Regions from separate parts of the Homo sapiens genome. Here regions 1, 3, 4, 5, 6 and 7 are each reported to be linked to region 2. Evidence: microRNA targets listed by miRTarBase, many of them from high-throughput screens and not tested one by one. Region 2 holds a microRNA gene; each other region holds the end of a gene's coding sequence.

What was found. Region 2 holds the annotated microRNA hsa-miR-485-5p (AGAGGCUGGCCGUGAUGAAUUC, at 818-839, shown strand). A microRNA usually pairs through its seed, bases 2 to 8, with sites in the 3' UTR of a target mRNA and lowers its output. Matches are read on the target gene's strand: a 7mer-m8 pairs with bases 2 to 8, a 7mer-A1 pairs with bases 2 to 7 and ends in A, and an 8mer does both.
Region 1: the mRNA of TRAFD1 is a reported target of hsa-miR-485-5p. Seed matches in the 3' UTR shown: 7mer-m8 at 518-524.
Region 3: the mRNA of GPR63 is a reported target of hsa-miR-485-5p. Seed matches in the 3' UTR shown: 7mer-A1 at 1,485-1,491 and 7mer-m8 at 1,522-1,528.
Region 4: miRTarBase lists NOTO as a target of hsa-miR-485-5p. Seed matches in the 3' UTR shown: 7mer-m8 at 1,068-1,074 and 8mer at 1,705-1,712.
Region 5: miRTarBase lists NUP35 as a target of hsa-miR-485-5p. The part of its 3' UTR that is shown has no 7-base or 8-base seed match.
Region 6: miRTarBase lists LPXN as a target of hsa-miR-485-5p. The part of its 3' UTR that is shown has no 7-base or 8-base seed match.
Region 7: miRTarBase lists ZNF695 as a target of hsa-miR-485-5p. The part of its 3' UTR that is shown has no 7-base or 8-base seed match.

What each region holds. Positions count from the first base shown.
Region 1 is chr12:112,152,527-112,155,623 of GRCh38, forward strand. TRAFD1 (TRAF-type zinc finger domain containing 1) reads left to right here. Exons shown (of 12, transcript NM_006700.3): 12 at 209-1,078. The coding sequence ends at 265. Among named protein-coding and RNA genes, the nearest start is that of MIR6861, 9.2 kb to the right of the region's middle.
Region 2 is chr14:101,054,610-101,057,706 of GRCh38, forward strand. MIR485 (microRNA 485) reads left to right here and starts at 810; the gene lies at 810-882. MIR134 (microRNA 134) reads left to right here and starts at 78; the gene lies at 78-150. MIR668 (microRNA 668) reads left to right here and starts at 649; the gene lies at 649-714. It overlaps MIR323B (microRNA 323b), which reads left to right and starts at 1,610; the gene lies at 1,610-1,691.
Region 3 is chr6:96,795,654-96,798,653 of GRCh38, reverse strand. GPR63 (G protein-coupled receptor 63) reads left to right here. Exons shown (of 2, transcript NM_030784.4): 2 at 1-3,000. The coding sequence ends at 182. Among named protein-coding and RNA genes, the nearest start is that of GPR63, 40 kb to the left of the region's middle.
Region 4 is chr2:73,210,519-73,213,615 of GRCh38, forward strand. NOTO (notochord homeobox) reads left to right here. Exons shown (of 3, transcript NM_001134462.2): 3 at 253-1,995. The coding sequence ends at 411. Among named protein-coding and RNA genes, the nearest start is that of SMYD5, 2.2 kb to the right of the region's middle. RefSeq lists a silencer at 2,191-2,260.
Region 5 is chr2:183,160,507-183,163,603 of GRCh38, reverse strand. NUP35 (nucleoporin 35) reads right to left here. Exons shown (of 9, transcript NM_138285.5): 9 at 1,924-2,550. The coding sequence ends at 2,473. Among named protein-coding and RNA genes, the nearest start is that of NUP35, 38 kb to the right of the region's middle.
Region 6 is chr11:58,524,799-58,527,895 of GRCh38, reverse strand. LPXN (leupaxin) reads left to right here. Exons shown (of 9, transcript NM_004811.3): 9 at 173-1,025. The coding sequence ends at 442. Among named protein-coding and RNA genes, the nearest start is that of OR5B21, 18 kb to the right of the region's middle. RefSeq lists a silencer at 3,006-3,097.
Region 7 is chr1:246,984,549-246,987,641 of GRCh38, reverse strand. ZNF695 (zinc finger protein 695) reads left to right here. Exons shown (of 4, transcript NM_020394.5): 4 at 1-2,319. The coding sequence ends at 675. All of the region lies in intron 4 of ZNF670-ZNF695 (ZNF670-ZNF695 readthrough (NMD candidate)), which reads left to right. Among named protein-coding and RNA genes, the nearest start is that of ZNF695, 22 kb to the left of the region's middle.

The DNA.
Region 1 (3,097 bases), not on the chromosome of region 2:
CAGTGGGGGACTCAGACATGGTGGGGCTTGTGTGGCTCCTGAAGTTGTAGAAGTTGTTGGGACCAGGCTGGTTGTGGTTCAAAGATTGTTCCTTTGGCTTTTGAGAAGGAGGTTTCTAAGGAAGCGGGACATTTTCGGGGATCCAGGGGAGGAGTAATGCTTTTTCACTTTTTATGTAAAGCTTCGTTTGTGTTGTGTTGTTCACCAGGCAAAGCCTTCCAAGCAACAGGGAGCTGGGGATGCAGAAGAGGAAGAGGAGGAGTAATGGTGTCTCCAGAGACTTTACATCGGTTCCTGTCTTCTGTGCACAGCAGCACTTGCCGCTGTGCAGGCCCACCTCTTTGGCTCTTTGGGTGGGAGAGTTTTTCCAGATTTTAGATTTTTCTAGGTTATGGCCATTTTGTGTCTTTTGAGGTTGTGCTGTGGGGGTTTGGGTTTGAGGGAAGGGAGCAGGGTGGCGGTTGAGGAACGCTTCAGCCTTAGCTGCTACCTTTCGGCAGCAGTGAAATACAAGCTGCAGCCTCGGCTGCCAGGGCTCCCTTTTGACTTATTGTCGCCACTGCCCCTTGGTGCTGTGTGGTCCCAGTGGAAGGAGGGGAAGATTTTGGAAACCTGGTAGCCACCAGTAAGGTGATTCTCTGCCCTGTTGGGGCCTAAATTTGGGGGCTTTTGGGCAACCTCTCCGTGTACTGCGTCTGTCCACACTCGATTGGGCCCCAGGTGTGTATGAGGCGCTCTGGTAAGGTGCTCAGGCCAGTTGCAATGTCTGTCAGTAACGAGGCTTTTGATGTGTTGAGCTGGAGGTGAGTGGACCGGGGGCTGTGTTTTAAGCTGCTTCCTTGGCATTTGGCATCACTGCCTTCTGTTCCCGGGGGAGCATGGATCTTTTGTCCTCACTGCTTTCTAATGGGGAGGGCTGAGGGCTCCCTGTCCCCACAGCAGGTATGTTGGGCTCTGCCCCAGCCCCACACTTGCTCTGAAAACCAAGTGTCAGAGCCCCTTCCCCTTGTTTTTATTTTACTGTTATAATAATTATTAACTTCCTTGTAATAGAAATAAAGTTTGTACTTGGAGTTCAGCTCAGTCTTGTGGTTCCTTCTCCTGTGTGCTTTAGAGACTGCAGGGAGGGCAGGGTAGGCTGGAGTCAGCCCTGGGGTTGGAGGAGGTGAGCAGGGCTGGGCTTTCTCCGGCACTCCAGTAACCCTCGCAGCTCCACCATGAGTCCCTTCTTGGAGTACACAGACATTGAACGTGTAGTGTTTTAAATTGGACTTCTGAGAAAACTGACAGGCTTGCTGCAGCTCCGGTGATGACTGGGGCTAGAAGGGGTGCCTCTGACTGAATAGAGAAAAGCAGATTCTTCAAAAGCCTTCATCCTGAGAGGAGTTGAGCCCTAGCAGGATTAGCTGTTACCCCTCAGTGCCTCCGTCTGCATAGGACCACTGAGCACCGTAGGTCATTTTGAGTTCCTTTGTTCTTCCAACAACCTGTTGGGGTGGGAAAGGTGGGAGGAACTGCCCTATTTCATAGATGGAACACTAGACACGGGAACCATGCGGCCAGTTCTTTGCAGAGGCAGGTCTCTGAAAAGAATTATCCTGAGAGAAAAAAGCTTCGTCTGCATGCACTCGCGCACACACACAAACGATACATAGTAGGGTTAGATCTTTTAGTGTATGTCAGTTATATCTCAGTAAAACAAAATCACCTTAGCTCAGTGAGACTTTCATGTGTTGTTGCGTGAAAGAAACTGGAGGGACTCGGACTTGCATGGCTTCTGCTGTCATTGAAATCTCCCTGGAACTTCAAAAAGTTGGGAGGAAGGATCCAGGGCAGCTCTAAGTCCTCTCCCCAGCTGGGCCAGGGAACAGTCATGTTGCCCTTAACTGTCTGTTGGAGTGTGGGGATAGACCTGCCAGAAAGTCAAACTCTCCCCACTCTGCCTTTGGTTGGATTAGACATTGAGTAAAATAGTAGGAGGTTGGTTGGTTTTACACTGTTTTTTTGAGACAAAGTCTTGCTCTGTTGCCCGGGCGGGAGTGCAGCGGTGCGATCTTGGCTCACTGCAACCTCCACCTCCCAGGTTCAAGTGATTCTTCTGCCTCAGCCTCCTGCGTAGCTGGGATTACAGGTGTGCGTCACCATGCCCAGCTAATTTTTGTATTTTTAGTAGAGACCGGGATTCACCATGTTGGTCGGCTGGTCTCAAACTGCTGACCTCGTGATCTGCCCACCTCGGCCTCCCACAGTGCTGGGATTACAGGCGTGAGCCACTGTGACCCGCCAACAATGGGGTTTTCTAAATATACAGTTATGTCATCTGCAAACAGAGACAATATGATTTCCTCTCTTCCTACTTGAATACCCTTTATTTATCTTGCCTGACTGCCCTGACCAGAACTTCCAACACTATGTTGAATAGGAGTGGTGAGAGAGGGCATCCTTGTCTTGTGCCGGTTTTCAAAGGGAATGCTTCCAGTTTTTGCCCATTCAGTATGATATTGGCTGTGGGTTTGTCATAAATAACTCTTATTATTTTGAGATGAGTTCCATCAATACCTAATCTATTGAGAGTTTTTAGCATGAAGGGGTGCTGAATTTTATCAAAGGCCTTTTCTGCATCTATTGAGATAATCATGTGTTTTTTGTCATTGGTCTATTTATATGATGGATTACATTTATTGATTTGAGTATGTTGAACCAGCTTTGCATCCCTGGGATGAAGCCGACTGGTGGATAAGCTTTTTGATGTGCTGCTGGATTCAGTTTGCCAGTATTTTTTTTTTTTTTTTTTTTTTTGAGACAGAGTCTCGCTCTGTTGCCCAGGCTGGAGTGCAGTGGCATGATCTCAGCTCACTGCAAGCTCTGCCTCCCGGGTTCATGCCATTCTCCTGCCTCAGCCTCCCGAGTAGTTGGGACTACAGGCGCACGCCCGGCTAATTTTTTTGTATTTTTAATAGAGCCAGGGTTTCACTGTGTTAGCCAGTATGGTCTCGATCTCCTGACCTTGTGATCCACCCACCTTGGCCTCCCAAAGTGCTGGGATTACAGGCGTGAGCCACCGTGCCCGGCCAGTTTACCAGTATTTTATTGAGGA
Region 2 (3,097 bases):
CACCTCACAAGACTTTGAAGAGAGGCTCCCTGGGCCCCAGGCCGACTTCCAGAAGAGATGTTGGTGTCAGCACCGTCCAGGGTGTGTGACTGGTTGACCAGAGGGGCATGCACTGTGTTCACCCTGTGGGCCACCTAGTCACCAACCCTCAGCATCACTCCCACTCCAGGAAGACTTTCCAGAGCTCCCACCAACTCTGGGGAAGCGGCCATGGACTTGCTGTGACTGCTTGGTGGACTGCGATGACACGTGCTCTTGGGGGTGTATGTTTACTTAAAATGCAATGAGTCAGCCTTGGCAGCCCCTTCACCACTGTGACAGCCTCCTTGAAGTGTTGACTTCCGATGTGGGACGCCATGTTGTCTTCTGTTGAGGGACCTGATGTGGGCCAGCTTTTCTCCTGGGTGTGTGACTGAATCCTTCTTCCCAGAGCATGTGCTGCCTTTGTTAGGTCTGTCACGTCGTCCTCTAATACCCAGCATCCTGTCTCTCCCTAGGAGGCTCCATGGAGATAATGCGGCTTTGGGAAGCGGCCATGATTCTCCTGTCAGGGACCAGTGAGCTACGCAAAAGCTCCCTGTCTTGTCTGGAAGGACGAACTGCATCCTTGCTGCTGGGGAGAAGGCAGTGCCCTCAGCACTCCCTTAAGGTAAGTGCGCCTCGGGTGAGCATGCACTTAATGTGGGTGTATGTCACTCGGCTCGGCCCACTACCCAATACTATCCCACCCATTCCTAACAGGACTCCCGAGAAGGGCGGCCACCTCTGCCAGAGAGGCAATGGATTTCTCACCAGTGTTCATGTGTGGTACTTGGAGAGAGGCTGGCCGTGATGAATTCGATTCATCAAAGCGAGTCATACACGGCTCTCCTCTCTTTTAGTGTCAAATTCTGCCTCGGAGGGCTTCCTGAGCCAGTGCTGCTTCCAAGGTAGGTTTCTGGATGGCTGACCCCATGGCAAGCATTTTCCTGAGGATGCATGTAACTGACCTACTAACTTTAGAGTCCAAGCTGACCCTAAAACAACTTCCTGGGGCACTACCAACTTTAGGAAAATCGAGAGAGGTTGTTGGGATGCCCTAATTTTTTAAAAGTTAAGATTGAAATACACATGGCTGACTTCTTTTTTTATTCCTATCAAATTCAACCTTGGAGTTGAATCTTGGGCATCTAGAAGCATCTTTTATTAGTCAGCCGTCGGGATACAGAAGAAAACAGGAACAGGACTCTGTGCGACCCCTGGTTTACTAACCCACAGCAGCCTTACACCCTCCAGAGAATTCCTGTAAGGGAATCCCAGGTTTACCAAGGAGGCAGTGCTTAGCCTGCTTTTGCACACACATTTGTGTGTGGTTTGCTTCATATTTAATGACTCCTGTGCCACTGACATCCTTGCATTATTAAATGTTGCCTGCATGGCCAGCTGAGCACAAGAAGTGGTATTTCTGTGCACACTAATCCTGGCTTGGTGAACCTGGGGTTGGCCGGAGAGCATGGGTTTGAGCCACCTGGTCCACTCATCCTCAGGGTCCCATCCACCCTCAGAGGCCACTCCCAAGCTGCCCAGGCTGTGCAGAAGATGCAGGAATGCTGCGAGCAGTGCCACCTCATGGTACTCGGAGGGAGGTTGTCCGTGGTGAGTTCGCATTATTTAATGATGCCCAATACACGGTCGACCTCTTTTCGGTATCAGATCTCACCAGGTGTCTTCTTGGACCTGATGCCGATTTAGGGGACACCATACTCATGTTGGTTCCACACCAGTGCAACTGAACATGTGTGTGGCCCTGGAACCAATGGGTAGGTGCTGCTAGCACTCCTAATCCTCAGCCAGTGCATTCCTGGGGAAGAAGCATGTGATCTGTGCTCAAGACCCCTCTGTGACTGAGGAAGTGGTGGTGCCCATGATGCTTCTGGGGTTTTGTGTTTTTTTTTAAAGAAAAACAATGTATAGTTCTCTTCTCTTTCACTATTAAATCTTACCATGGAGGAAGGACTTCTTAGACATGTTGACAAATTCAGGGAAGGGGCGTTGATTTCAGCATTCTTGGGGACTCACTGGAAGGGTGACTCACCACATCTGTTGATCTGGAGGCCACAGCAAATTTAAGAACAGAAGACAGTTGCATTTTCAATTTCTTGTTTTTCTTTTCAAAAAGGATAATTATTCTACCTTATTACCATATTTATGAAAATGACACATGCTTAATAAAATTCAAGCGATGTGGAAAAATCTAAATGAAAAAGAAGGAAAATTGCCCAATTCTCTGGCACCCAGAAATAACCATTAAGGGCTTTAGAAATTTCATACACCTGTCTGAGCATACATGCAAATAGAAAAACAAGACAGACGCAGGGAAAATATGAGATCACACTGTACCTAATCATTTTATTAAAAATGCTAACTATAATTTTCCTTGAATTTATCATAAAAAACAAGCTAAAGGAGATTGAAATGATTGATAAATGTTTCTCGCTTTACCACCACAGGTAGCAACTCCTAAAAGATCCCTGTAAAATTAAGAAAAATTAGAGTGTAAAAATTAAGTGGTTAGGATTGTTATGGTTTTTAACTATTTCAATTTCACTCCTAGTTCAGAAAGATAAAGAAGTCAGCATTCTTATTCTTCCTTTGCTTACTATCTCCTGCTTTTTCTCAATTATACATTTTAATTTTACATTATAAATATCTGCAATTTGTTCTAGAACTATAATTCTTGCAGGTGTTTTGCCATAGTTCTATATTTAAATGAATTCATTTCTGACCACAAGGTTTGTTTTTTTTTAACTGAGGTTTCTCCGTTCTTTAGTTTTTAAGTTTAATTTATCTCTCAATGGAAATGATCTTATTGTTTCTGTGAGAATAGCTCATAGACACTACCCTTGAGTTCCTGTGCATTTGAGAGTATATATCTCTTTATGCACAAGGGACAGCTTAACTAGGTATAAAAGTCTCAGCCTACTTGTTTTTTCTCAGAAATTTATAGCTATTGTCCACTGTTTTTTGCATTGAGGCTTTCACTAGCTGTCTTAATGTGGCTTCTCCATGTAGCTCTTACTTACCTGGACTATTTTATCTAGCGATCTTCACAAACCTT
Region 3 (3,000 bases), not on the chromosome of region 2:
GCTACCTCAAGTCTGCATTGAATCCGCTGATCTACTACTGGAGGATTAAGAAATTCCATGATGCTTGCCTGGACATGATGCCTAAGTCCTTCAAGTTTTTGCCGCAGCTCCCTGGTCACACAAAGCGACGGATACGTCCTAGTGCTGTCTATGTGTGTGGGGAACATCGGACGGTGGTGTGAATATTGGAACTGGCTGACATTTTGGGTGATGCTTGTTCTTTATTGACATTGAATTCTCTTTCTCATAGCCTCTCCACTTTATTTTTTTTTATAGGGTTTGTGTATGTATGTGTGTGAGCAGTGTAAAGAAAGAATGGTAATTATAGTTCTGTTACCAAGAATAAATAATAGGAAAGTGATTACAAATATTACCTCCAGGGTTCAATAGAAATCCTCAATTTAGGGTGAGGAGACTTTTTTTTGGTTTTGGGGTTTTTCCTTGATTGATTTTGTTTTCATAGTGGGAATCAGGATTGTGCTTTATTGAGCCTGCAGTTACATTGAATTGTAGGTGTTTCGTGTGCTGCTAAGGTATGCTTATTTGAGTTTATCAAGACTTTTTTTTTCTGGAAGACACTGCTGCTTTTACCATCACATTGGAGCCAAACATCTCAATCAATATATATTTAGTTTTATTTTAAAAACTAACCCAGGAAGGTTAGCGACATTTTAAGGGTCATTACTATTTACTTTGGTGCACTTTAAGAGATAATGTACAAATTAATTCAGTCTTATTTTTCAGAATTGTTTTTATACATGATATGTGCTTTAGGAAATGTGCATTATCATTTATGGGAAGATAGTTTTAAGAAATGTTTTATCTGCATGTACAGTTGTAAAAGAGAACATAAAATGTAGATACTTTTCTAAGCACAATAGCAACTCTTCAAGCAATAGCGCAAAATCTAGGAGACAGGATCCTTGCAAATTTAAAAGGTGAATGTAGTGAGGGGGATGGCAAGTGGCTGGTACAGGCTGTGGTGATTCCTTTTACTCAAGGGTTTTTGTGGAGTATAGGGAGAAGGGGTTGATATTTATGGACACCTATGTGTCAGGCACTGTGCATCATTTTATCCTTACAGGATGTTGTGAGGTAGGTATTATTGTTTTCATTTTTACAGGTGAAGAAAGCAGGTCTCAGAGGGACTAAAATCCTGCCCAAGGTTAGTGGTAGAGCTGGGATCCAAAAATCTGTCAGAATCCTGAGACTGCGCTGTTCCACTGTGCCACGCAGACAGTTCATTCAGTTTAGATGTCACATAGTCAAGAGGGAACTCTATGCATCCTTTAATTTTTTAGACTATGATATTCTTTTTAAAAATTAGCCTTTATTTTCTAACTACCAAAAGAAATATGAAAGCATTACAGAAACACTGGAAAATAGAAAAGAAAAAATAAAATCACTTACAACCACTTTTTGTTTTTTGGAGTCTCGCTTTGCCACCCAGGCTGGAGTGCAGTGGTGTGATCATGGCTCATTGTAGCCTCAACCTCCCAGGCTCAGGTAATCCTCCTGTCTCAGCCTCCTGAATAGCTGGAACCACACACACACACGCACACACAGGTGTGTGCCACCACACCCAGCTATTTTTTTGTATTTTCTTTTGTAAAGACAAGGTTTCACCATGTTGCCCAGGCTGGTCTCAGAGTCCTGAGCTCAAACGATCTGCCTGCCTTGGCCTCCCAAAATGTTGGGATTACAGGCATGAGCCACCACATCTGACCTACAACCACTTTTTAATGTGAGACTTAAAAATCTTAGATAAATAAGGCTGTGAAGCAAAACCAGTGATTTTTTTTTTTGTTTTTGATTTGCAAAACAAGTGACTGACAATTATTGAGAAATTAAAGATAGCTATGTGTAGGTCTTGCCCCTGCGGGTTTGGAGGTTTCCAGTTGTCCATCTGTGTTAGTTGTAAGTGTTCTGGGCAGAATAGTATTGTTGCCCCAATGCTTGCCCTAGCAGAGCTGGAGTTTGTGAACGTGCTCAGATGTGTGTCTCCTACAAAGAAGGGAAAATGAACCCTCGTCTGAGCCTAGAACAAGTTTTAATAGGGCATGTCTGACATTTCAAATTGTTTTTCTCTTGCTGACAGTCTGCCCCCAGGTGCATCTAGGGCCTTGGTCAGCTTCTCTGTTACCAGTGGCTCACTTTATAAAACAGCCCACAGGGATAAGGGCTGAAAATATAGCCACTTGGCTACATCATTGACTAATTAAGTAAGTTAACTGTGGATTTATAGCATCTTTTCAGGATGTTAGTGTTTTGTGAGCCAGTGGAAAAAATAAGCTTCTATTTCTTCATTTGTAAAACCAGAGAGTTGGATTAGATGAATCTCTAACGTCCTGTCCAGCTCAAATGTGCTTTCCTCTATACTAGGGTATAGATTTTTGAAGAGCCTAGCTGACTTCAGCATCACCTCACCCTTTGGTCTCCAGTATTACTTCTTTACATTTTACTTCATTAGCTATTTCTTAATATTAAATGTCTGAAGAGTGTGGCACTGTATCAGGAGTTGGGGCATTGAAAGGTTGAAGACATCATGAAATATCTGGGAAACTCTGCTCTTAAGGAAATTGCACCGATGTTGGAACTCATTGTCCAGTTAAAGAGCTCTTTGGGGACTCAAGCATATTATTCAACATGTTGTTTTGGGATTATCTTCAAATGATAGTCACCTACCTCTTTCATTTCTAATTTTTATTCACAGGTAAAATTGTTTTTGTCCATAGGGATTTTATAGGACATAAGCACTGTAGTAGATACTAGTAGCATTTTGAAGTGTATTATGCTCTCCATTTTCCATATAAACTAGATTTCAAGCAGATATTGATAAGGACATTTTTTATTAGACTTTTCTCTGAGGAAAGTCAGCATGATCTGTATTCATCTTACATATTGATAGGTCATGAAGACTCCTTTTTGGCTGGAGGTGAAACTGAGCTTTGTTTTCTTTGTTCCTGTTTTATGGGCAGTCTTTAGGTACTTTCATGCTGC
Region 4 (3,097 bases), not on the chromosome of region 2:
GCAGCTTGCCTCTGTTGCTCACCACTGTATCAGCATCACCTAGGATGGTGCTTAGCACATACTGGAAACTCAGTAAATACTCAGATGAATGAATGGTGTCTGGAATTGTAGAAAGGGGTGTTTTGGAGGAGGTACCTCCCTGAGAAGGAAGAGCAAATATTGGCCAGGCAGAGAGGGGTGTTCACTCCAGGAATTAGGAAGCAGTGGGACCTGATGGTCACATTCTGATCTCTGCCCACTCTCCAATTATAGGTGAGAGTCTGGTTCCAGAACCGCAGGGTCAAGTATCAGAAGCAGCAAAAGCTGAGGGCAGCAGTTACATCTGCCGAGGCTGCCTCCCTGGATGAGCCTTCCAGCAGCTCCATCGCCAGTATCCAGAGTGATGATGCCGAGTCAGGAGTGGACGGCTGAAGACTGGGACAGAGGCCCTAGCCAGGCTGCCTGGACTAGTTCCTCCTGGGGGTACCCACTGGAGCTCCCTGCCTCACACCTCAACGAAAAGCCTCCTCAACCAGAAGAATCTGAGCTGTCAAGCAGGGACCCCCTTTTCTATACTGATTCCTGGAAACTGGAATAATGTAATGATTGGAGGCACAGACTCTGGCCTTCAGCTATGTCCTTGGCCAACCTATGGAACTTCCGAGCCTTTTTTCTTTATCTGTATAATGGGTGCATTCATAACTTAGATCACCCAGGGGTGAGAAGATGTCTGTAAAGCAATAATGTGCCATGCACAGTGCAAAGTGTGTGGTTACTGTTAAGGCTTGTAGGCCCCTGAGTAGAGAAGACCAACTGGAAAAAAAAAAGTTTTTTTCTTCTGCTGTCACCCCACAACAATCAACACAGAACACTTCTGTGACCAAACGTATAGGGGTGTACCCCACATTCCAACCTCCAGTTCAGCAAATTCTGACATGATCTACCTGCAGGTAGTGTCTGACCCCACAGATTCAGGGCTCATTCCACATGGCAGCCCCTCCTTTCTTTTTTTTTTGAGACAGACTGCAGTGGCGCGATCTTGGCTCACCGCCACCTCCGCCTCCCGGGTTCAAGCGATTCTCCTGCCTCAGCCTCCCGAGCAGCTGGGACTATAGGCGCATGCCACCATGCCTGGCTAATTTTTATATTTTTAGTAGAGACGGGGTTTCATCATATGGTCAGGCTGGTCTTGAACTGCTGACCTTGTGATCCACCCACCTCGGCCTCCCAAAGTGCTGGGATTACATGTGTGAGCCACCACCCGGCCCAACCCTGCCCTTTTTGTTTTTTATGGAGTCTTAAGGTCTACCAGTCATCAGTCAACTCATTAGCATATGAAAAGACATCACTTCAGAGATTCTAGGGATTTTAGGAGTTCTATGCCAGGAAATCGAGATGAAGACCAAATATATATTTCATAATATCACAGCTCCCCTCACCTGGGGGAGTAATACCTGTACCAGCAATTAATATTTTCCTGGCCTGGCTGTGGAGAAGGAACCTCTTTGAATAAGCATCTGGGCATAGAAGACTCTTCACCATCAGAAGGAGTTGAGAGCAAAGAAGAGAAGGTAGACTGTTTAGCCCACTTCACAAAGTTTCCCAACGTTTTCTTGTTTTGTCTGAACTGTTACCATTCTCAGAAGAAGCTCAGGCCCAGCAGCAAAGACAAGGACTCGCTCTGTCACCCAGACTGGAGTGCAGTGGTGCAATCATAGCTCACGGCAGCCTCAACCTCCTGGGCTCTAGTGATCCTCCCACCTTAGCCTCCTAAGCAGCTGGGACTACAGGCGCGTGACACCACGCCTGGCTAATTTTTAACATTTTTTGTAGAGACAACGTCCACTTGTTGCCCAGGCTGGTCTTGAATTCCAGGCTTCAAGTGGTTCTCCTGCCTTGGCCTCCCAAAGCCCCATCTTTTTATAGAATAATTTGTGTATGCCAAGGCTGGCATTTTGTCATAAACTCTGCTGTGTTTTCACAGGACAGTTATAATTTCCCCCTTTCATGACTCTGACTCATGGCTCCTTTTTCTTCTCAAGAATGTGCTCGATTTCTCTGAAAGAAGCCTGCTGCCAGGATTTGCAGAGCTGATTTCTGTAGCACAGACCATTCAGATTCTAGAATGGCTCTTGGGGACTGAGCTGAGGGATGGAAGGAAGCCTGCCCTGCCACCTGGTGGTGAGTGAGGGCACGGCCCCCAGCTGCTCTCGGGTAGGTTTGCCCCCAAGTACGTGGACTATTCGCTCCCTGACACCGGGCTGCAGGCTTGAGGGGACCCAGGGTCGGTTTCAAGAGCCTCTTCTCTGGCCCTGCCAACTATCTATCTCCCCCAAGTCCGTGGACTATTCGCTCCTTGACACCAGGTTGCAAGCTTGAGGAGAGGCAGGGTCAGTTTCAAGAACCTTTCTCTGTCCCTGCCAACTATCTATCTATCTATAATTATTTGATAGATAATTGTGGCTTGATCACGGCTCATTGCAGTCTAGACCTCCCCAGGTTCAGGTGATCCTCCCACGCATCACCACGCCCGGCAAATTTTTCTATTTTTTGGAGAGACAAGGTCTCACTACGTTGCCCAGTCTGTTCTTGAGCCCGGGAGCTGGAGGCTGCCGTGAGCCGAGATCGCCCCATGCCAGTATGGGCGACAAAGCGAGACCCTGTCTCAAACAAAACTCACAAAATCAGGGGACAAGGAAACAAAACAAGGCTTGATAGTCAGGCCTAGCTGTGGGGACAAATGCCATAGGTCTGTGGTTTGCAGCTTCTTGGGGTCCTGAGAGAACAGGCCCCTCCCCCTTTTCACGACAGTGTGTGCATATGCACACTCACTTCTGTATCCAGTTTCAGAGGTTCTCAGATCTGAGGTCCCCTATGGACTCCTCCGCTACCCCCGGTTGCAAGGTCCCTAAGCCATTGAAGAATCTGACAGAGGCACAAGTCCACCCTGACCTTTGGCAGGACTGTTCTGCTGCCAGAGGGATTACCGAGAAAGGAAATCTTGTCCTGGACTCTTCAAGTGGGGTGAGTGAGCTCCGGGGTATAAGCTAGTCCTTCCCTTCAGGCTGAGAGCTAGACAGGATAGGAGTAAGTTGGCCTTCTGCTGTCCCACTCTAGG
Region 5 (3,097 bases), not on the chromosome of region 2:
ATAATCTCAGGTAGGCAGGTTACTCTTCCAATGTGTAGTTCCAAATTTTTTTCATCAAAGTAGTCATTTGATTTTGTTCTGTATGTTGCATTTTTTCTGTCTCTAGAGTTTGTCATACCCCTACTAATCCTTTTTATCTCTTTTCTTTCTGATTTCTAAAAGTCCTCCATTTTTATCTTTCATTTCTTTTAGGGCATATCTGTTGTTCATCAGCTGTTGTTTATTCTAGTCTTAATTTATGAGTGATTTTCCTCTATTACTAACATTTTCCCAAGTTCTTCAATTTTATTTTTGTTGTTCTTTCATATCTTGTATCATTTTCTAAATGTCTTAAAACTCAATTTTAAGTACTACTCTATAGCTTCTATCCATTTATGGGCATGCCTTTCTGGTGTGCTTTCAATGTCTACAGGGATGTTATTTTCTTCCTTATACTCTTTTTTTTTTTTAAACAAACTTGCATGATTATAGTTTCACGTTATTTTTTTTGAAGTCAGCTTCTCTGAGCTTTTAAAAGGAGGCTTAGTTCAGGGTAACTTTCCTAACATCACAGATATTCCATTTTTGTTGTTTTTATATAGTGTTCAAAAATAGGACAGCTCGCTTTCTGAAATTTTCCTGGATCTTTTAAAATAAATGACAGATACAAAGATGGGTAAGATATGATACCAAGAGAAATAACAAAATATAGCAAACAAATATTTTTTGCCCAAAAGCAAACTTCACAGTCCATAAAGGCCTATGCAAATAAATAAAACACCCCCTCCAATAAACAACCCTTTTAATAAAATGTGTATTAATTCAAATACAAATGCACGACTTTTAAAATGGAATTTAGTAGCCAGTTCTATATTGAATAATTGAGTTCTGCACATTATGAAATAGGATATAAAATATAATCCTAAACTGGAAGAAAAAGACTTCAATGTAAAAGTTTTCAGATGAAAATATACTTTATAAATGAATCTTCATTCATGCCAGTACATTCCTTAGTATTACTTAGTAATACTTCCCAGCTCTTTAGGAGGCCGTGGTAGGTGAATCACTTGAGTTCAAGAGTTCAATATCAACCTGGCCAACATGGTGAAATCCCGTCTCTACTAAAAATACAAAAATTAGCCAGGCATGGTGGCACACGCCTGTAGTCCCAGCTAATTGGGAAGCTGAGGCACAAGAATCACTTGAGCCCAGGAAGTAGAGGCTGCAGGGAGCCAAGATCGCACCACTGCACTCCAGTATGGGTGACACAGCAAGACTCTGTCTCAAAAAAAAAAAAAAAAGGTATTAATTATGTTCAATGGGATACTGACATTGTAATTCCATGTAGAAATATTCTTTTTTGATATATCCTCACGTATTTAGAGTAAAATGACATCTTATCTGGGATGTGCTTTAAACAAAATAAAAGGGAAAGAAAAGAAACAAGTATGGCAAAATTTAATGGTAATTAAAGCTGGTATATAGTGGTTCATACATATTTTCTCTTTCAATGAATACTTAAAGCTTTTTATAATAAATCACCCTTTCAAAAAATGTTCAATACATATTGATATCATTTGGATATCTGTCCCCTTCAAATCTCATGTTGAAATATGGTCCCCGATGTTGGAAGTGGGGACTAGTGGGAGATGTTTAGATCATGGGGGCAGATCCCTCATGAATGGCTTGGTGTCCTCCCTGCAGTAATGAGTTCATGTGAGATCTGGTTATTAAAAAGAGTCTAGAACTTCCTTCTTCCTGCTCTCTTCCTCTCTTTCACCATGTGATATGCTCACTCTTCTTTACTTTCCTCCACAAGTAAAGCATCATGCTTCTTGTACAGCTACAAGCCAATTAAACCCTGAGCCAAATAAACCTCTTATTTTTAATAAATTATCCTGCCTCAGGTACTCCTTTATAGCAATGCAAACAGACTAATACACATATCATTGACAATGTTTATTATCAAGAAACTTTAGGTTTTTTAAAAGAATGCTCGTTTTAGAATACACCAAGAGGACACTCTGTGACAGGACATATACAAACAAGGATAATTAAAATATTAAATACTATCTAAATTAAAAGACCATAATTCAAATTGCTAATTATAATATTTGTGTCGGTAGAAATAACTATAGTTCCCCTTCATGAAATTCACCCCCACGTTCTCATGAAGACTATGACGTCTCACCACAATTTCAGTTATTTAATTTACAATAATCAATGCTGAGTTTTCTGTGCTGAAGCATGCACTGTTACAGAAAGCACAAAATCCTATTTACAGGGATTTTTAGTTTTCTTTAAAATGTATCTCAAGCATCTTTTAAAGTGCGAGCTACAAATAGGTTGTATCCTTAATGAAAAAGGCTTCTTTCTAAAAGAAGTATGAGATAGCTATCCAATACTGCAGGAACAGTTATATAACTAACCGAAGGAACCAGCAGCACTCTGCTAACTCTGTTTTAGTGTAGCAACCTCCTTCTTGGTGTTCTACTACCAGCCAAACATGTACTCCATTGCTTTGGATACAAGACTTTCATCTTTTTTTGGCGTTTGTCTGTCAGAAATAACCTATTAAAAAACACACACAAAAAAAACGGTTAGGTTATTGTTACTTCAGTGTCATAGGCAATTCTAGAATTGCTCATTTAAAAGAGAAACACCAAAATGCATTTATAGCACTAAATTGTAAATTTTTGTATTTTTAGTAGAGACGGGGTTTCACCGTGTTAGCCAGGATGGTCTCGATCTCCTGACCTCGTGATCCGCCCGCCTCGGCCTGCCAAAGTGCTGGGATTACAGGCATGAGCCCCTGCGCCCGGCCTGAATTGTATATTTTTAAAATTAAAATATGGACTTAGAATATCCTTATGCTTTTAAGAATGCCAAAATTTTATTCCTTTGGCAAAGCAAATAACATCTGTTTCTTAAATTAGAAAATTGAATAGCTGGGCGCAGTGGCTCAGGTCTGTAATCCCAGCACTTTGGGAGGCCAAGGTGGGCAGATTACTTGAGGTCAAAAGTTTGAGACCACCCTGGCCAACATGGTCCCATCTCTACTAAAAATACAAAAAATTAGCTGGGCGTGGTGGCACGTGCCTGTAATCTACTCAGGAGG
Region 6 (3,097 bases), not on the chromosome of region 2:
TTGCTTGTCTGTTTTGCAAGCGGGAAATCTAGTCTCCATTTGTCAAGAACCTGAGGGAAATTCCTGTAGCTGGCAGGTAACTGTCAGGAATTTCAAGGCTGAAAATTTTACTTTGCTGACATTTTACCTCTTGACATTTGCATTCTTTTTCTCTCTCTTCTCTCTACCCCAGGACTGCTTCACCAGTTTTTCTACTGGCTCCTTCTTTGAACTGGATGGACGTCCATTCTGTGAGCTCCATTACCATCACCGCCGGGGAACGCTCTGCCATGGGTGTGGGCAGCCCATCACTGGCCGTTGTATCAGTGCCATGGGGTACAAGTTCCATCCTGAGCACTTTGTGTGTGCTTTCTGCCTGACACAGTTGTCGAAGGGCATTTTCAGGGAGCAGAATGACAAGACCTATTGTCAACCTTGCTTCAATAAGCTCTTCCCACTGTAATGCCAACTGATCCATAGCCTCTTCAGATTCCTTATAAAATTTAAACCAAGAGAGGAGAGGAAAGGGTAAATTTTCTGTTACTGACCTTCTGCTTAATAGTCTTATAGAAAAAGGAAAGGTGATGAGCAAATAAAGGAACTTCTAGACTTTACATGACTAGGCTGATAATCTTATTTTTTAGGCTTCTATACAGTTAATTCTATAAATTCTCTTTCTCCCTCTCTTCTCCAATCAAGCACTTGGAGTTAGATCTAGGTCCTTCTATCTCGTCCCTCTACAGATGTATTTTCCACTTGCATAATTCATGCCAACACTGGTTTTCTTAGGTTTCTCCATTTTCACCTCTAGTGATGGCCCTACTCATATCTTCTCTAATTTGGTCCTGATACTTGTTTCTTTTCACGTTTTCCCATTTCCCTGTGGCTCACTGTCTTACAATCACTGCTGTGGAATCATGATACCACTTTTAGCTCTTTGCATCTTCCTTCAGTGTATTTTTGTTTTTCAAGAGGAAGTAGATTTTAACTGGACAACTTTGAGTACTGACATCATTGATAAATAAACTGGCTTGTGGTTTCAATAACTCATTGTCATATTTGTTTGGGAGATAAACTTTCTGCTTCCCGTGTTATATACTAGGCACTATGTACAATTAAGATTATATCATACCTCGTTTCCTTCCATCCAATGCACACTTTAAAATTTTTAATCAGAAGAAATTAAAAGGAGGGTCTCCTTTTCACTAATTTTTCTTTTTTTTCTTTTTAGTTTGGTCCCATAACCATTTTATTTTCTAGACTTAGATGATTGAATCATTTTTAAAAATGACAAAGCTTCTTAAAATTGTTTTTATTACTTTGTTTACAGGAGGAGAAACCCTGGCTCTCCATTAGAAACCTTACAAATTCATTTCTTTTTCCTTTTTTTTTTTTTCTGAGATGGAGTTTCGCTCTTGTTGCCCAGGTTGGAGTGGAATGGCGCGATCTCGGCTGACCGCAACCTCCACCTCCTGGGTTCAAGCAATTCTCCTGCCTCAGCCTCCTGAGTAGCTGGAATTACAGGCATGCGCCACCACACCAGGCTAATTTTTCTATTTTTAGTAGAGATGGGGTTTCTCCACGTTGGTCAGGCTGGTCTCAAACTCCCGACCTCAGGTGATCCACCCACCTCGACCTCCCAAAGTGTTGGGATTACAGGCGTGAGCCACTGCGCCCAGCCACAAATTCATTTCTAAAGTAAAAAATGAAACACAATTTCACATTTGCCTCCTGAAGACAAATGAGATGGCTGTTCTTAGAGCATCTCTGAAGAAAGATGCTATAAATAAAGCTCAAATGATTATTATCTAGAATTAGGAAAGCCAAGACTCAAAGAAAAATTCCTCTTAATCATTTGTTCATCTCAAAATATTATAAGTAAATGTTTAGAAAAGCTTGTCAGGTTATCAGAGAATCTGATTTTCTTATGTCCTGTCAGTTTACTGTCCTACAGTTTACTTTTTATAAAAGTAAGCTTCACAAGGACTAATCTTTCTGCAAAAGGGATATTGAGAAGATCAGTACAATATCTTTCTTCCCGTGGTCTTAAAAATAATTGTGTGATTATTTGTTATAACAAAAACCAGACTCTTAGAATCCTTGATTCTGAGATAAGTTACTGGCGAAAACTCCTTCACTGGAGGTATTTTTAAAAATAGGACAAAATTTGATGTCTTTAGATTGATAGAGGAATAGTACTACTTGGGAGAGCTGAAATGGATTAAATGTTTCTTGCCAAACTTTATTATATCTATGTCCTTTGTTGGAATGGATAATAAGGGGGTTGTGAGAGTTACAAGGAATTGGCAACAGTTAATTCTATAAAATAGGAACTCCAAATGCATGTAAGATATGTGGGAGGCCACACAGATACGGAACCATCTGGCCTCTATCCTGTTTGGCTGTCTGAGAGCGCCAGACTATGCAGAACACACATTCAACTTTTAAACATCCTCTTTGCAATGTCTTCACTCAACGATGTCACACGCAGGTGTTAATATGGCAATGTTCTTGGTTGCCTTGGCAATTTGACAAAATAAACTTGGAGTTTTAGCCCTTAAAAAGAAATGTACAGGTGCTAAAACTTTTTTAAAAAGGATTAGCTATTTTGAGATTCAATAGAATTTAACTATTTTTAAATGTCAAAGAAAATCCAGAGTTCACTAAGATGTAATTAAGAAGTGAAAACACTTTCTTCCCACATTGAACGGAAGTGGTTTTATTTGCTCAAAAAGAGATACTGACTTCAGGACCAGTGTTTTAGCAATAAGGAAACTACTCACAAGTAAAAAGTTCTGCTTTTTAAAAACCCTGGAAATGCCATTACTAAAATTGATCACGTACTTATTTACTTTTGGTTTTGAGTAACTTCTAGGATGTTTAAAAAATAAAACCCACCCTCACAGGACAGGGATTTTCCACCAGTGAATATAAACATATAGAAAGGAATATGCTCTAGAGTTGGCACTGTATTCTCAAAGGGGAGTCCCTCAATTAGTTTGGTCAGTTTTTCTTTGAAGTAAATTTAGTCTCTTCCAAGGTAATACTTTGATAAAGACAACAATTATTTTTCCATCCAAGTTCTATCACACACTCTTCTTGGAGTTGTAGGATGGCT
Region 7 (3,093 bases), not on the chromosome of region 2:
GGAGAGAAACCATACAAATGTGAAGAATGTGGCAAATCCTTTAAGTTGTTCCCATACCTTACTCAACACAAGAGAATTCATAGTAGAGAGAAACCCTACAAGTGTGAAGAATGTGGCAAAGTCTTTAAATTGTTGTCATACCTTACTCAACATAGAAGAATTCATACTGGAGAGAAAACCTTCCGATGTGAAGAATGTGGAAAAGCCTTTAACCAGAGCTCACATCTGACTGAACATAGGAGAATTCATACTGGTGAGAAACCATACAAATGTGAGGAATGTGGCAAAGCTTTTACCTGGTTCTCATACCTTATTCAGCATAAGAGAATTCATACTGGGCAGAAACCCTACAAATGTGAGGAATGTGGCAAAGCTTTTACCTGGTTTTCATACCTTACTCAACATAAGAGAATTCATACTGGAGAGAAACCCTACAAATGTGATGAATGTGGCAAAGCTTTTAACTGGTTTTCATATCTTACTAATCATAAGAGAATTCATACTGGAGAGAAACCCTACAAATGTGAAGAATGTGGCAAAGCCTTTGGCCAGAGCTCACACCTTTCTAAACATAAGACAATTCATACCAGAGAGAAACCATACAAGTGTGAGGAATGTGGCAAAGCCTTTAACCACTCTGCACAACTTGCTGTACATGAGAAAACTCATACCTGAGAAAAACCCTACAATTCTAAACAATATGGCATAGTCTTTAATACCTATTCACAACTTCACAGCAGAATATTTTTACTGAATAAGAGTGTTACAAATGTAATGACTGTCAAAAGGCCATTTACAGTCTATGAGCCTTTGAGTGCACTAAAATGTTTAGGCTACGAACAATACAAATAGACCGGTTCAACACCTCCACTTATATCACAGCTCTTACTGTACACAGAAGAATTTATACTGGAGGGAAACCCTCCAGTTGCTCAAACTGTATTCAATTTCAAAGACTTTGTATTGGAGAGAAACCCTACAAATGTAATAAATGCAGAAACAACATTTGTTCAAAAAATATACCTCAGAAAACACCAGAGTGTTCACACTAAAAACTGTTTTACAGATGCAGTAAATGTGAAAAAATGTCTAATCAAAAATTACATCAAAACACATCCAAGAATTCATAGTAAAAAGCACTAAGTCACTGACACTTTCAGACATTACTGTAAATCTGAGTGTTGGTTATAGAGAATAATTCAAAGTTAAGTTAAAGTAAGTAGGAGATTCACCTTTTGGGGAAGTTATAATTACATTTCAAGTATACCTTTTGGTGCCAGGCACGGTGGCTCTTTCCTATAGTTGCTGCACTTTTGGATGCCGAGGTCGGGGGATTGCTTGAGCCCAGGAGTTTGGGACCAGGCTGGGCAACATGGCAAAACCTCATCTCTACAAAAAGTAAAATAAAAGCCAGGCTTGGTGGCACATGCCTGTTGTCCCAGCTACTTGGAAGGCTCAGGTGGGAGGATTGCTTGAGCCTGGAGGTTGAGGATGCAGTGAGCTGCTATCTGGCAACTTCACTCCTGCCTGGGCAACAGAGCAAGACCCTTTCTCAATAATAATAATAACAACATAATAATAAAGTATACTCGGTGCACTGAAAGAGTTTTAGCTTTTTTGAAAATCACATATTTATGTAATTCAAGTCTTAAATCACTTGATACCATGCCTTCATTTCTAGTGTTTATGTGAAGGCATGAGGCCTACTGTTGCTACATGAAAGCTGTGAGAGTTTCTTCTATATTCGGGTGGGTGTTGTTCATATCCTTTTCTTTGGAAGATTATGGACATTGCATTGTAAGCTTCCTGAAGAAATTTAACTGGAGAGGCTCTTTGTACTTGTCTTATAATAGGGTTGTAAGTGATTCATGAGATAGGTCTTCAGAGTACTATTCTGCATTATATTTAAGAAAGAAACATTTGAGTTTTACAAGTCAGTTGTTTTTCCTATTGCACATTAAGGTAATAAAATTCAGTGGATTTTGAAATGCTCTTTTTAGACTGTTTGAACTTAATTTGTTTTAATAAGACATTGTTTTAATGTCTTTGGACCGTTGTACATTAAGTGATGCGTATCCTACCACCAACGTTAACCTATCTCACCTTAGTTACGGTTGTAGGTAACAAATGGTAACAATACAATAGTGGGTAACATGGTGGAATAGTATCTCTAATGATCCCTTCTCCCAGTGGCATTAAACTTCAAATAATTTGAAAAATATTGTTCCCACACGTTACACCTTCATTCTGTTTGCTCTTTTTGTAATGACAGTGTCATTATTAAGGCTATAATAAAGCCTATATAGGATTATAATCAAAGACCGTGTATTTCTGAATCTTGAAGGACTATTCACAAAATTTTATTTACATTTTCCTTTTAACATGTGGCTTTTCTGGCCTGCAAAACATATACATGCTTTTAGTTTTGGTTTACATGGAGATAAATACATAAATATACTACTCTAAGGATAAATGTTAGGTGTAAGACAGTTATGAAGCAAGTAATGTGTTTGAAGTAAGTGCATACCTGTTTTCAGAATAAGAGAAAAATGTTGGAACCAAACATAATTTCAAAAGTATGGATAATTTATTAGCAAACTAGAAACCTCAAAAATGTCGAAGGCAAATCTGTTTTCTCTGCTTTGTATTGAAGGCATTTCTCTAAAATCTTATTTTGCAGAATTTCCACATGAAATTCCTGTTTTTACTTTTATGTTGCTCATGCTAGAGCTAACGTATAATTTTCTTGTTCCAAAATTCATGAAGAATTTCTTATGTGATCTTCTCAGGGATTATAATAATGATTTTATGAAACTTATTGGTGCTTAAAAAATAATCTGAAGATGTGAATAATTCCACAGTGAGTGTATTAATTTTCATTGTACTTAATTAGTACATTTCCATTTTTCCATTATTAGAGAACACTATTCGAGCCAACTTTTTTTGTTATTGTTTCTTTCACTTAATTGAGTAATTGAGTTTATTGACTCTATTGGGCAATTTGTTCAGATAAACACTTTGGAGGCTTTATAAGTCATAGGGCTATTTGGCATATAAATGAAGTGAAGAAACATAACGCAGTGCCAGATGTGT